2 separate regions of the Homo sapiens genome follow, and region 2 is linked to region 1. The links come from fine-mapping of genetic effects on gene expression. Tissue or cell type: whole blood. Region 1 holds a variant in brackets; the other region holds the start of a gene. All regions are shown on one strand. Distances are between the middles of the regions.

The links. PIP is the estimated chance that this variant, and not a neighbour inherited with it, causes the effect.
Region 2: it holds the start of NFYC, and the variant in region 1 is fine-mapped to the expression of NFYC in whole blood (Lepik 2017, PIP 0.95).

Annotation. Positions count from the first base shown.
Region 1 is chr1:40,486,079-40,494,184 of GRCh38, reverse strand. It overlaps ZFP69 (ZFP69 zinc finger protein), which reads right to left. Exons shown (of 6, transcript NM_001320179.2): 4 at 4,971-5,097; 5 at 4,561-4,656. It overlaps EXO5-DT (EXO5 divergent transcript), which reads left to right. Exons shown (of 2, transcript NR_187365.1): 2 at 497-3,160. Among named protein-coding and RNA genes, the nearest start is that of ZFP69, 13 kb to the right of the region's middle. The variant C/T (reference allele first, on the strand shown) is at 4,166.
Region 2 is chr1:40,686,958-40,695,043 of GRCh38, reverse strand. It overlaps NFYC (nuclear transcription factor Y subunit gamma), which reads right to left and starts at 3,340. Exons shown (of 10, transcript NM_014223.5): 1 at 3,177-3,340. It overlaps NFYC-AS1 (NFYC antisense RNA 1), which reads left to right and starts at 2,783. Exons shown (of 1, transcript NR_024567.1): 1 at 2,783-5,964. It also overlaps a transcript of RIMS3 not described here. RefSeq lists enhancers at 2,353-2,402, 2,423-2,592 and a silencer at 2,833-2,932.

The DNA.
Region 1 (8,106 bases):
TATTTTTAATTGACAACTACTTTTGGAAAACAATCTCAGAAAGATAAAAGGAAGATGTTTCCCTCCCCACTCTGGCAGCAGCAGGAGACATTCGTTCAGAAAATACAGTTTGAACTAAGAATACACACAAGAACATTATGCTGTCTTTTATTGAAACTTGTGTGTGTGTATATATATATATTTCTCTTTCTATAGTTATTAATATGTTCATGGAAGTATTACTTATACAAAGGAGACTTGTAAGAAACCCAGATTGCTATGCTGTTACTGCTGCTAGGTTCTAGGAAAATACCCTTTAACCTTTAAGATTTTTACTTGATAAATTTGTTGCACCATTACTAATATTTCAACTGACAGGTCTTTATGTATTCCTGAAAGGTTTAATTTCTTATAAGATTTTTTTTAGCCAACACAGATGGATCATTAGCAATTCAAAATGTCAAATTCTAAATGACAACAGGCAATAATAATGTCTAATAATATCTATGCTCTGCAGGTCCCTGATTCTGGTCTTGAATAGCGGAGGAGGAAAAGAAGATGATGGGGGAAAAGAAAAGAAGCCATTTATGCATCCCTCCCTAATTCAGTATCCGAGCATGAGGGAGTGTCAAGCTAGTGGGGAAGAAGAGAGGGTTTAGTTTTGAATGAAGTTGGGAGTTTTTATTATTGCACTGAACTAAATAGGCATTTTACTAAAGTCAAGACTGTTCTTGTTATTTAAAGGAACGGGATCATCAATGGAACTCTTTGAGATTTCATCCAGAGGCTGGGAAAGAACATTCATGGTAGCTTTTATTATTATTTTCATTATTGTAAGTTGAGGAAGAGAAAACCCAGGAAAATATACAAAGAGTGATTGGAATTAATAAGAGTAAAACAAGGTGGCTGTATAAAAGGTCAATATTCAAAATCAATTTTGTTATTACTTACTAGCAACATAATTTTTTTTTTTTTTTTTTGAGACAGAGTTTCACTCTTGTTGCCCAGGCTGGAGTGCAACGGCGTGATCTTGGCTCACTGCAACCTCCACCTCCCGGGTTCAAGCGATTCTCCTGCCTCAGCCTCCCGAGTAGCTGGGATTACAGGCATGCACCGCCACACCTGGCTAATTTTGTATTTTTAGTACAGATGGAGTTTCACCATGTTGGTCAGGCTGGTCTCGAACTCCTGACCTCAGGTGATCTGCCCGCCTCAGCATCCCAAAATGCTGGGATTATAGGCATGAGCCACCGCACCTGGCCAGCAACATAATCTTTCTTTAAAAATATACCTGTTCACGACTGAGGCTCAGGGAAAAGAAAAGGAAAAAAAATACCATCTACAGTAGCAACAAAATATAAGATTTTCAGAATCAATCTAACAAAAAATGTACAATATGTACAGGAGAAAATCCTGAAATGTTACTGAAAAAAATTAGGAAATATCAATAAATGGAGTGCTATATCATATTCCTGGAAGGATTCAATAGCATAACAATGTTAACTCCCCCAAAATTGATCTAGAAATTCAATTCTATTCCAATCAAAATGCCAGCAGAGTATTTGTGGGTGTGATTTGATGCTCTGATTATATAATTCAAATAGAACAACAAGGATCCAAGAATAACCAGAACAACTTTAAAGAACAAGGTGGGTGAACTACCTCTACCACATATTAAGTCTCATTATGAGATACAGTTTTTAAGACAGCCTGGCATTAGAGTAAGGACAGAAAAACAAAAGAATAAAACAACATAAAGAGAGAAACACGACAGAAAAAGAATATACAAAACAGAAACAGACCCAAACATATAAAGAAACTTGACAGGTGACAGAGCAGCATTAACTATTCCTGGACTGATTATCCATGTGGAAAAAGTTAATCAGATTTCCACCTCATACATACAAATTTATTTATATAAAATAAATTCCAGATGAATTAAACCTAAATGTGGAAAGCAAAACTTTGAAAATACAGGAATATGTAAAAACATATATGTATGATCCACATATATGATAAAATGGAGGATAGCAGGGCACAGCAGCATGCACCTGTAGTCCTGCCTCAGCCTCTTTAGTAGGTGAGGTAGCTGAGGCAGAAGAATCACTTGAGCCCAGGAATTCGAGGCCAGCTTGGGCAACATAGCAAGACCCAGTCTCTAAAAACAATTTAAAAAGTTTACAAAAAAGAATAATAAGGCATAAAAGGGTTTCTTAAAAAGCACAAACAATAAAGAAAATCCTGATAAATTCAGTAACATTAAATTTAGAAACTCACGTCTAACAAAAGACACTAATTTTGAAAAGTCAAAGATGGGCCACTGACCTAGAGTAAACATTTGCAAAACATAAAGCTATCAAGGATTATTATCTAGAATGAATATATGTATAATTATACTAGAATGAATATATATATATATACACACACACACACACACACACATACACACACACATTTTTTTCTACCAATCAATAAGAAAAAAAGATTATAGAAACATTGGCAAGGGATATAAACAGGTAATTAACAGAAGAGCCTGGCATTAGAGTAAGGACAGAAGAAGAGATGGATGGATGGTCAATGAACATGAGAAATATACTTCCTTTCACTGGTAATCAGGAAAATGAAAGAAACAAGATACCATAACCCAGTGAATTTACAAAAATCTTAAAGTTTGACAATAACAAATGTTGACAAAGATGCTGAGTTATGGAAACTCTCAAACCCTGTTAATGGGAGAATAACCTGGTGTAACTGCTTTGAAGAGCAAATTGGTAATACCTAGCAAAATGAAAGTGCATATATTCTACAACCCAACAATTTTGCTTCTACCAGCTATCTTAGAGAAACACTTGCATTATGTATACAAGAAGTTATGTACACAAAGGTTTGCTGTAGCATCTTTGTAACTCCCAAATTTGGAAACAATGTAAATGTCTATCAACAGGAAAATGAATAAGAACATTGTGGTTTATTAACTCAATGGATTGAATGAACTAGAATAACATACTGAGGAATATCACCAGTGTTGAATGAGAAAAGCAAAAGGAAGAAGTATATATACCATTTATTTAAAGAAAGAGAACATGCAAAACAATGCTATATATTGTTTAGTATGTATACACTGATATATAGACTGCTTTTACTACATTATACATGTAATAAAAGCACGAAGACATGGGAATAATATTTCAATGCAGAGTGCTTATTTCAAAAGGTGTAAGGGGGACAGTGGAGCTTCAACTGTGTTTCATTTCTTAGTCTAGGTGGAAGCTACACAGAAATGTGTTATAATGTTTTCTATGCCTTTCTGAGTGTCTAAAATATTTCAGAATAAAAAGCAAAGTTTGAGGAGATTGTTAGGGACCCCGACATTTGGTTGAGAAGGAATCCTTTGGTAATTTCTCTTACAGGAGTTTTCATAAGTAGCTGTTACAAAAAAGATACATAAGTTAAAAAGAGAATGAGAATCGAAGCTGGAATTGTAAAATGAACATTGGCAAGAAGTAAAAATGGAGTGCAGGAAAATTAAAGATTTGTAGAATGCAATGGGAGTCTTGGAAAGAGATTGGTTTTCTGTGAAAATACCACATACATTTGACTGCTTAGAGAAAGCTTTAGATTGGCAGCCCTTAGGATACTGGAGAAAGGGAAAATCCAGCTCAACCTTAATGAGGACAAGACTGCTCTTTCCTCCAACTCCAGGGGACTTTTGCAAGGGCTCAGTGAAGGAAAGGGGTAAGGAAGGGACGGGTGATATTAGTTTAGTGGAGGCTCTGTCCAGTGGTCTGAGCCCTCCCCACAGCCGAGGCTTTGAGCACTCTGACCTACATATTAAAATTCCATCTGCCTTGGTGATTTGGTTTGAATATTTATCCCCTCCAAATCTCATGTTGAAATGTGATCCCCAGTGTTGCAGGTGGGGCCTGGTGGGAAGTGTTGGGTCATGGGGGTGGATCACTCATGAATGAGTGTCCTCCCCATGGTAATGAGTTCTCACTCTGAGTTCACATGAGATCTGGTTGTTTAAAAAGCCTGGCACCAGCCTGGCGCAGTGGCTCACACCTGAAATCCCAGCACCTTGGAAGGCCGAGGTGGGCAGATCACAAGGTCGAGATCAAGACCATCCTGGCCAACATGGTGAAACCCTGTCTCTACTAAAAATACAAAAATTAGCTGAGCGTGGTGG[C/T]GCATAACTGTAGTCCCAGCTACTCGGGAGGCTGAGGCAGGAGAATCGCTTGAACTCCAGAGGCGGAGGTTGCAGTGAGCCAAGATTGCGCCACTGCACTCCAGCCTGGCGACAGTGCGAGACTCTGTCTCAAAAAAAAAAAAAAAAAAAAAAGAAAAAGAAAAAGAGCCTGGCACCTCCTCCTTCACTCTCATGCTCCAGCTCCCACCATGTGATATGCCTTTCACCATGATTGTAAGTTTCCTGAGGCCCTCACCAGGAGCAGATGCCAGTGCCATGCTTCCTGTACAGCCTGCAGAATCATTAGCCAATTAAACTTCTTTTCTTTATAAATTATGAAGTTTCAGGTATTCCTTTATAGCAACACAAAAACAGACTAACACACTTGGTCTCACCTGAACTGGGATCTCCTGGGCCTTCTTTCTCTGCCATCCATGGCTCTTCTCCTTTCTCTAACTGGGATATCACACTAGGTTTGGAAAGTTGATATCCTGCTTATGTAGTAAAAAAAACAGTGTGAATGTTTATGCTGATGTCTAAGAACCATCCTCAGAATTTTGAGTCTTCTGGTATTCAGGGTCTCCACAAGTGGAAAGGGGTGGGTCTTTCTATCCTAACTATGTGTAGTAAAGTTGTTCCCCAAGAAAGTCAAATTGGATATGCCCTCACTTGGTTTTCAAAGGGAATAAGACATCTTTAATACAGAACCCAAATCAAGCCTCAAGGAATCTACACATCAATAATTTAAAATAATGACTCTCCTGTAATGGGTGGGTTTCTGGATGCATGGATAGCCAAGTCTTACCCACTGACACCAAGTTGCTGTAGTTCTCCAGCATCACCTCTCGGTATAGATTCTGGTGAGCAGGAGCCAGCTGCCCCCACTCTTCCTGGGTGAAGTCAATAGATATGTCCTTGAAAGTCAACAATTCCTAGAACATCAAATACATTCATTTTTAGCCGGAGACCACCTCTGTTAAGTTCCAAGGAGTTCTGACAGTATTCTAAATTCTGAGAGATTCTAAACTTACTTTTATCAGGAGCCTTCTCTGGATCTGTTTGGAGATCCTCTGATCTCCAAATCTGATCAACAAAACTGTCTGGAACTGTAGTCTGTCTGGATCTCTAATCTGGAGATTACTATAAATAATGTAATATATAGAAAGACAGATGGTGATACATACCTTAGAAAAAAATTAAGCAGGATAAGAGACATTGGGAGAACCACAGTGAGGGTAGGATGATCTTTTATGTAAAGTGGTTGGGGAAGACTCTCTAAAAGGGTGATGTTTGACCGGAGACATAAATTCAGTAAAGGGAAGAACCACATGGAAATCTGAGAGAAGAGCATCCTGGGCAGGTGCAAAGGACCTAAGGTGACAGTGTCCTTGGCTTGAGGAACAGGAAAGTGAACAGCATGGCTGGAGGTAGGCTGGTTGATGAGAGAGTGGAAAGAAATGAAATCAAGAGAGGTGGAGATGAGGAACAGGGTGGGATAGGGGTTCCCCCACCACCTCACGCACTTATTGTCACAAAGACCTGTGCATTCTTACTGAACTTGAATTCTGAGGCCCTGCTGGAGTTTAATGCAAAAATGAACAAAACTGTCTGGAACTGTAGTCTAATCCCTTCCTAAGCTCAAATGCCAAAAAGATAAAAAGAAAAGCCCTCAGCAATTGTGGCATGGGCTAATCAGAAGTATACTCAATCAAATTAAAGCTGCATGATAGCCAGAGCTCAGCCACAGCTCTAGGAGGAGCCCCTCACCTTAACCACCAGAGAGACGAAAGGGTTTGGAAATAGAACAAATCAAAACACATGAATAAACTATGTGTGTGTGTGTGTGTGTATACATACAAAACACACACATGTATGTATGTATATACACATGCACTCCTGCCTTGGCCCCTCAAAGTGTTCGCATTACAGGCATGAGACACCGTGCCCGGCTTAGAGATCACTTTTTTTTTTTTTTTTTTGAGACAGAGTCTCACCCTGTTGTCCAGGCTGGAGTGCAGTGGTGCGAGCTCAGCTCACTGCCACCTCCCGGGTTCAAGTGATTCTCCTGCCTCAGCCTCCCAGGTAGCTGGTATTACAGGCGCACGCCACCACGCCCAGCTAATTTTTGTATTTTTAGTAGAGACCGGGTTTCACCATGTTGGTCAGACTGGTCTCGAACTCCTGGCCTCAGGTGATTCGCCCACCTCAGCCTCCTGAAGTGCTGGGATTACAGGCGTGAGCCACCGCGCCCGGCCTGAGAGATCACTTTTTACTGTGATATGCAATTTACCGGAGAGATGAAGTGCTAATGCAGAGATGCTTAGCATCACACTGAATTTTAAGTAAATACTTGAAACACCTGAGCGCACTACAATAGCCACAGGAGATAGCTATAAAATTATCATACTAATACACTAGGTGTACTATAGTTTATTTTATGCAGTAGTGATTTAATACTGCATCTTTACATTTGTTTACATTTCTCTCAACTGAGAATGGCACCATGAATAGTCTGTGCACATAAGCTTTGAAAATTTTTAACTTTTTATAATAGATACGTGTATCTCTTATGGTAGTAAATGATAAAATAGACTAGTACCTACATATATTTTATGTATTCATAACATACCTAACTTTTTCTTAATTTTTTTGATACTCCTAGGCTACATGGTCCATCTGCAAGTTTTTTCAAATTGTCACAAATCTCCAAAAAATGTTTCAATATATTTATTGAAAAAAGTCTATATAGAAGTGGACCTGCACAGTTCAAACCTGCGCTGCTCAAGAATCAACTGTAGGCCGGGCGCAGTGGCTCATGCCTGTAATCCCAGCACTTTGGGAGGCTGATGCGGGCGGATCATGAGGTCAAGATATCAAGACCATCCTGGCCAACATGGTGAAACCCTGTCTCTACTAAAAATACAAAAATTAGCTGGGCATGGTGGTGCATGCCTGTAGTCCCAGCTACTCGGAAGGCTGAGGCAGAAGAATCACTTGAACCCGGGAGGCGGAGGTTGCAGTGAGCCGAGATCTCGCCACTGCACTCCAGCCTGGTGACAGAGCAAGACTCCATCTTAAAAAAAAAAAAAAAAAATCAACTGTAAATGAAAATTCTACAAGTGAAAAAGACAATATCTAAAAATTCATTGGATGGGCTTAAAGTAGATTAGACCATGATGAGATAAGATCAGTGAAACTTAAGATGGGTCAATAAATATTATTCAAACTAGAGTACCAAGAGAAAAAAATCTGTGGGATAATATCAAGTGGTCTATTATACATGTAATTAGAATCTCAGGGCTAGGTGGGATGGCTCCTGCCTGTAATCCTAGCACTTTGGAAGGCCAAGGCAGGAGGACTGCTTGAGCTCAAGAGTTTGAGACCAGCCTAGGCAACATAGGAAGACCCTGTCTCTACAAAAAAAAATACAAAAATTAGCCAGGCATGGTGGCGCACACTTGTAGCCCCAGCTGCTCAGGAGGCTGAGGCAGGAGGATCACTTAAGCCTGAGAGGTAGTGGTGGGAGGGAGGGAGGGAGGGAGGAAGAAAGGAGGGAGGGAGGGATGGAGGGAGGGAGGAAGGGAAGGAAGGAAGGAAGGGAGGGAGGGAGGAAAGGAGGGAGGAAGGGAGGAAGGGAAGCAGGGAGGGAGAAAGAGCAATCTCAGAAGAGGGAATAGGTAGAAAAAATATTTGAAAAATAATGGCTGAAGATTTTCCAAACTAATAGGAAAAAAAATCAACCCACAGATCCAAGAAGCTCAGCAAACCCCAAAAAGGATAAACTCAAAAATCACAGCAAGGCACAGTGGCTCATGCCTGTAATCCCAGCACTTTGGGAGGCTATGGTGGCAGATCACTTGAGGTCAGGAGTTTGAGACCAGCCTGGCCAACATGGTGAAACCCCATCTCTACTAAAAATACACAAAATAAAAAATAAAATA
Region 2 (8,086 bases), 200 kb before region 1:
CCTGACTTCAAATACCACCTGCCTCAGCCTCCCAAAACGCTGGGATTAGAGGCGTGAGCCACTGCGCCCAGTCTCTAGTAGTTCTGACCAAAGAAAAAAATGTGTAAGTATAAATGAGATAACAGATTTGTCATAAGAATTAAATAAGATGCCATGAACACAGCCTATAAAGTATAAATCTTAGTATGATTTCTGCCTGAAGAAAAAGCTGAGGTTCACAAGTTTTCAACATAAACTCAGATCTACTGAGATTTCCTGAGAGTTCAAGATTTCTAGAGTGGTCAATTCCAGATCTTAACAAGGTGGCCATGGGTATAAGGGGCTAACATGGAATGAAGGTGGTCACCAATGTTGAAGGGCAGGTTGCTCCAGAAATGCCTGCTGAAAAAAAAAAGGTGTACATATACACTCATTTTTATCACCTTGTCTAGTCTTACTAAAAACGAAACTAAGTTATAGATCTACAGCATTCTTCATATTTGGTTAACTTGATGACTGAGCCAAATGAGGCTGAAATGACCAATGTACAAAATACATGGCAAACCCTATTTTCACTTGTAGCTTTGCCTCTATCTTCCACAGTGAAACGTTATTGTAAACAAAAATGAGGGAGGGCTTCACCTAAGCACATCAAGACATAAAGCAATTAAGATTTCCAACTCACTGGTCTCCTCTCAAACCCTGATTTAAAGGTTTCCATGCAAAATTGGAACTGCAAATATTTTGTCCTATCCAGTCTTAATTTTACACATTGTTCAGGATAAGCATATCCTAGAATCAATATCCCACAGTCTGAAGAAAGCACTAGGCCTTTGAATAGGTCCTGGTATTTGGGGACACCCTAAGGAACTGGTGATGCTTGAAAAACCTCTCCAGTGAGCTCTTTACACTAGGCACTTGGTAGTTCCTCGCCATTTGGCATAAATTACCTCCACATACAGAAAGACTATCTGCAATATTCTGAAGCTTGGTTTTAAGGAATGCAGATTCTTCAAGTTTCTGTACATATTTTTCCCCATTATCTACCTGGATTCAGGAAAAAATGCAGCAATTTACTTGGTAAATCTTCCCTTTCACAATAGAAGCCAAGGGATATGATTTGAATACCTAGCTGAAGAACCCATATTCTCTATGGTTACAATTCTGTGGTCTGAATCCTTAAGCAGCACAAGAAATTCTTAAGAATTATAGTCTTCCATTTTATACACTCTAAACACCCAGAAATCAAAGTAGATGATCCACTTGGAAATACAAAATTATCTGGAAGTTTCATTAGTCAGGTTTATGTTGATAGCTGATGTAGCAGATAAAATTACAGGCTTTGGCATCAGGCAACCAGGGTTTGAATTCTAGCTCAACCACTTACTGAGTGACACCAGACAAGCTACTTAAACTCTCTGATCCTCAGTTTCCTCATCTGCAATATGGGGACGATAATGCCTACCTATTGGAGTTAAAATATGCCCCAAAATAGCAATTCTCTTCCTCTGCTACTTATCAATTCCCTTCTCCAGAAAATGTAGTTGCATTCACATAAAACTAAATTTGAAAACCCTAGGAGTTTCTTGAAATTGGTATGAAAACAGAAGAGTACCATCTAAAGCTAAAAAGGACTACCTAACAAAAACAAGGAAAAACAAATTAGGAAAACACAGATGTTTAACATAAATGTGTTTCCATGGCCCTCACACACTGGGACGAGCAAATGTAAAGCAATACAAGTAACTACGATTCAGATTCAGTGGAAAAGAACATATTCCCAACAAGTTGACTGGAACGACTCTGGATTGGAATAAAAACTTTTTGAATATGAACCAGAAAGTGTTGACAAGTCCTGTTCCTTAAGAAGCTATGCATGGGCTTTTTTTTGGTTTGGAGCTGCTTATTTGAAAAAACAAACAAAAAATTCAAAGTACACATGGGAATGGGTATACTTTTTAGGCACATATACAAGGAAATAAACCAAGACCGAAAATTTCTGGCTAGCTCCCTTTCCCTTAAAGGGGAACCTAACAATATTTACTCAACAAATAACTACCAACTACCTAATATTTGCTAATGTGGCTTTGGAAACTCAGCCATGACCTGTATCCTTCCTAGAGCAGCAAATTTCATATACAACATCTCAAAACTACTTGTATGGTCCTGAGACTCAATAATGTATAACTGTTCTATTAATACACTTCCCAAGTCCGAAAATGTCCCCTAAAATGCTTCCTATATCAGATTTTGTCACTTTAAATCTGATACTACTTAATGCTGTGCTTCCTAGGCTCGGACAGAGCACACTTCTCAATAGCATTCCTCTCTCGGTTTACTTGCTCCTCACATCACATCCCAGGTCCGTTGACTCTGGACTCCAGGGCTCCACCAAAACCTCAGTGTTTGAATGCTTGCACTCTCCAGCAAAATCCCTGATCCGATTCTACCGTTCAGCTATGCCCCTAGCCCTGATGCCTTTCTTCCTACACCATACACTCACACCGTGGACTTCAGGGCCACTTCCAAACTGGGTCACATTAGCAACCCTGGATCTCGAAGACTCTCAGCCTGTCACTTGGGTTTCGGTGTTTCCAAGCCTGGAACCCTGAGGGCCTGCACACCCCAATCTTGGGCCATGCATGTACCAGGAAAAGCACCTCTGAAAGTGAGTGTCCCCCATTCCCAGGCCATGGCCTAAGCTACCCCCAAAGTACCTGCCAGGCCATCACCCTCTCTTCCCCCTTAAAGCCTCTAGGCTCGCCCTCTCGCCGCAACCCCACGCCTGCGCCGCAGGGGGTCATTGCCCCAGCCGCCCTAGCCCAAGACGCGCGCATCCCCGCAGCCTCAGATTCCTTCATCACCCCCTAGACCGGAGCTGGCGCGTCCAATAAGGTGCCAGGTCCGCGGCCTCCCCGCCACCGACCAATCACGAGCGAGCCCCCCCGCCGTCGCCTTCCGCCAATGGGAGAAAGCCCGCGGGCCGGGCCGACGAGGCACACGGACCCCACGAGCGCGGCGGCGGCGACAGCAGCGGGCCAGGCAAGAGCACAACATGGCGGCGGGCAGGACGGACCGAGCTACAGCAGCGGCCGCGCGAGGAAGTGAGGTCTCTGGCGAAGGCGGGAAGCGCTGCCCCTCCCCCCGCCGCCGCTTCCCTATCACCCTCGCACAGAAACTCCCGCACACTCACACACCTCTGCTCAGGAGTCCAGGAAGAGCAGGAGCCGCCCCCGCGCTCCTACGGAGTCGGGCAATGCAGAGGCCCAGGCGCGGCGGAGGGGAGGGGGAAGTGTGCGTCACGGAGAACGGAGCGCGCGCGAAGCGGGGGCACAAGCAAGATGGCGGCCACGCCGTTTGCACCGTTTCCCCTTTTCCCTTCCCCCTCCCTTGGCGCCTGGACTCCCAGTATCGTGCGGTGCGCAGAAGCTGTGCTCCTTGAGGTCTCGCGAGAATTGGGAAGGGGCGACGACAGAGGGAGGCGGAATGAGATCTGAGAGTTTTAACCCCGCCCCCTTTCGGGAGCTCGAGATCTGAGTTTTGACCCCGCCCCCTTTCGGGGGATCCGGAGGCGCTGCCCAGTGACCTCCACCACCCTGCCTATCCTTGTGGATCTCCTTGGTGCGAGCTTGAATTTTAGGAAATAAGTAGGTGTGTGCGCGTGCCCTTGAGTTTTAGGAACTAAGTAGGGGCGTGTGTGTGTATTTGTGTTTTTAATTTGGGGAGAAAGAACTGGGGGATGAAGGTCGACATGGCGTTCCAGATTAAGCATGCCGTTCAAGTAGACAGCTACTGGCACCTTAAATTCATAAAAGAGCATTTAGCACCAAACTGTAAAGTGATGTCCTCTAGAATAAAGAACAGTACTTACCAAGAATAGTTAGCTTGTAACCTTACGTCGACATAGTTGTTCTTATTTGAATGCAGATTTTAAAGTTTTATCACGCAGTTGGAAACCACAGCTACTATGAGCATGGATTTTTTCATACTTATCTCTTTCATTTCCGTGACCACTTGGTCCAAAGGCATCAGGATTGTATCCATTTTACAAATGATAAAACTGAAGCTCAAAAAGGTTAAGTAACTTGATCTAAGTCCCCACAGCTAGTAAGTGTCAAAACCCCATCCGAATAACTTCAAAACCTGTAGGTATAGTCATCAAATGTGTCTTGAATGGAATTACCTACAGTGAGAGTTAGTGCATTAGGTAACAAGCGCAGAGAGGAATGACTGCCTCTGCTGATGGTAACCTTGAATTTTACAAATGACACTGGAGCCTTTCTGAGACTAGTGTTGCATGGGTCCTCAATAAAATCACACTGTTGTTACTCACTTCCTTTGGGTTTATAACCCTGGTGATAAAGTAATTGAGAATAGTGGAGTAAACCCTCGACTTGAATTCAGGAAAATTGTTTTCAAATCCAGTTTCAATAAATCTCACATCAGGCACTCTATTTGATGAATGAATGAACAAAACCTAACTATAAGACACTTGACTTCAGGGAGTCTCAATTCCTTCATCTGTAAAAAGATCTAATTCCTAACTTTTGGTAATGTTGGGGAGAGTGAATGAAATAATGTGAGAGTGCTTCGTAAATTGCAAAAGTGTTATAAAGAAGTTACTGGTAAGAGCTACGAGTGTCTCGCTGCACTCTAGCATGGGCGACAGTGCGAGGCCCTGTCTCAGAAAAAAAAAAAGTTACTTATAATGACATTTTCAGACATGAGAAATGGCATAAAATTAAAAACAGATTCAAGAGAATAGTATGTTGAGATTGTAGAGACAGATGTAGCTAATGGAAAAAAGCTAAATAAGTCTCTCTACAGATGTTTATTGAGTACTTATTGCATATACTATGCTTGCCAAAAAATGTAAAAGTGTACATTTAGTTACAATGAAGCAGCACAAGTTATTATTAGTGATTATTGTTATAATTAAGTATTGATCACACTTAGGGGCTGCAGTCTATTTCCTTCCAAGAGCCTGGAAGTTGGGTTGCCCTCAGAAATAAATAAAAATCTACATAGAGGAAATTAGCTAAGAGTGATATTAAGTATATTTAACAACAAGTAGTGCTCAAGCATAGATGAAGCAGAATTAGAAATGCAGCTAGGATCCTGGAGGTATACGTCTGTGCTAGGTGTTAACCCTTCAGTTGCTGGTTTGTGAATAGGAGGTCCCAAGGGATCCCAGGGGAAGGGAGTGGTCAGGAGGTTTGGGACAGCAGCTATTTACCAGGTAGTACTAGAGTATTTCAGTATTTTAATAGTCAATGTTATAACTGATAACAGTCAATTGATACATATAAGCCTAATATTAGTCCTTGCTATAGTCTTTATTATCAATAGCCTCCGCCCTTCCCTTTCTAAAGCCGTTGCTATCTGGCCTGTCCCTAGGAGATTAGGGTGAAAGACTTCTCACCCTAATGTCGTCAAGCTTGGCCTTGTTTTGACCAATGAAATATGAGTAGAAATGGCATGAACCGGCCGGGCACGGTGGCTCACACCTGTAATCCCAGCACTTTGGGAGGCCGAGGTGGGTGGATGACGAGGTCAGGAGTTCAAGACCAGCCTGGCCAAGATGGTGAAGCCCTGTCTCTACTAAAAATAAAAAAATTAGCCAGGTGTGGTGGCAGGCACCTGCAATCCCAGCTACTCGGGAGGCTGAGGCAGGAGAATTGCTTTAACCAGGGAGTTGGAGGTTGCAGTGAGCAAATATCACGCCACTGCACTCCAGCCTGGGCGACAGAGTGAGACTCTGTCTCAAAAAAAGAAAGAAAGAAATGGCATGAACCACTTCTGAGCAGAAATTTATGAGCTATCTTACAATTTTGCCATATTATCTTTCCTCTGACACAAGAGCAGCATGTCCTAAATAGAGCTCCCTCTTCAGCTTTGGTCCCAGAATGAAGATGTGCAGAGCGACAGCTGACACACATAACCTGTAATGTTGTGTGAACAATAAATAAACCTTTGTTGTAAGCCACTGAGATTGTTTTCGTTGTTACTGCAGCATAACATGCTAGCTAAGCAGACTAATACAACCATGAAATTAGCTATCCATGGGGGTAAGCCAAGACCTTTTTTACAAACATGACCAAACAAAACAAAACAAACTCTGATAAAGGGCATATGGGAGGAACCTGAAGAAGGTAGATATTGTAATTTAATAAATGGAACCTAATCAATCTCGTCAGCCATTCTGTACCCTGTTTGGAGAGAGATTCTGTGAACAAAAGGGCTTGCTCAGCCATGGCAGCCCAAAACAAGGCAGTCACAAAGGCTAGCACTACCATTGCCCCTCTAAGCCTCATCTCAATTAAGCCACACTGAGCATTAGGATTTCCTTGCCCGTGTCATCTCTGTAGTGGATGGGAATATCTCAGACTGCCTCAGCTAAGAAATACTTCTTAAGATCAACATGCTTTCCTCTATGTTCACCCAGCAAGTGTCTTGGCGATAGGGACAGAATTAAGTGATCTGCCACCTAGAGTATTCTAGTTCTTTTGATCATTGTATTTTTCATTGTAACTAATCAGTTAGATTCCTCTTTATATAAAAGTTTCTGTGAGCTTGGCAAATACAAGACACCCCCTACCCCCAGGAAATGGTTCAACTTTCTGCTTACTATTAAAATTAGGTTTCTGAGTTTGCAAGGTTAAACATCAGTTCTTGTATCATGGTAAATTCCTTAAGGTTATAGCACTGTATAACAGAACCTGTCTAGACAGCCAGCTGGACTTCCTTAAGCCACACCTCTCTATCTCATTGTGTACCTTTGGCCTAAAAGAAAAGCAGCGCTGGCCAGGCGTGGTGGCTCACACCTGTAATTCCAGCACTTTGGGAGGCTGAGGCGGGCAGATCACGAGGTCAGGAGTTCGAGACCAGCCTGATCAACATGGTAAAACCCCGTCTCTACTGAAAATACAAAAATTAGCCGGGCATGGTGGCACACGCCTGTAATCCCAGCTACTCAGGAGGCTGAGGCAGGAGAATCACTTGAACCTGGGAGGCAGAGGTTGCAATGAGCCGAGATCGCACCATTGCACTCTAGCCTAGGTGACAGAGCGAGACTCTGTCTCAAAAAATAGAAAAGCGGCACTAAAAGATATAGTTCATGTGCTGCTGGAGTTCAAAAAGGGAAAGCTTACTTCCACTTAGTATGAAATAGTGGGAGGAGTTCAGGAAAGATTTGCAAGGATGTGACATTTGAACTGGGTCTTGAAAAATGAGTAAAATTAGGGAAGACATGTAGGCAGCCACTAAAGCAAATAGAAGAAGCGAGGGATCAGTTGAGGAAACACAGAGTAAGAGGGAATGGAAGAAGAATCATGGAAAGATACATTATTATGGTTAAATTAAGGCTCTTGGGCTTTATTTTCTGATACGGGAAGTGAGTGGTAGAAGTTTTTTGTTTTGCTTTTAAACAGGTTTAACCATTTTTTTTTTTTTTTTTTTTTAGGAGATGGAGTTTTGCTCTTGTTGCCGGGGCTGCAGTGCAATGGTGCAATCTCGGTTCACTGCGACCTCCGCCTCTCGGGTTCAAGCGATTCTCCTTTCTCAGCCTACCGAGTAGCTGGGATTACAGGCGCGTGCCACCAGGCCCGGCTAATTTTTGTGTTTTTAGTAGAGACGGGGTTTCATTATGTTGATCAGGCTGGTCTGGAACTCCTGACCTCAGGTGATCCACCTGCCTTGGCCTCCCAAAGTGCTGGGATTACAGACGTGAGCCACCGCCCCTGGCCTAAATTTAACCATCTTTAAGTATACATTTCAGTGACATTAAGCCTGTTCACGTTGTGCATCCATCAGCAGAATTTGTCATTATCCCATACTGAAATTCTGTATACGTTAAACGCTTACGCCCTATTCTCTTTTCCCCAGCCTCTGGTAACCACCATTCTACTTTCACCTTTTGGCCACTGTGAATGATGCTTCTGTGGACATTAGTATACAAATATCTGTTGGAGTCCCTGCTTTCAATTATTGGGGGTATATACCCAGAAGTGAAATTGCTGGATTATATGGCAATTCTTATGTTTAATTTTTTTTTTTTTTTGAGGAGCCACCATACTGTTTTCCATAGCATCATACCATTTTACATTCC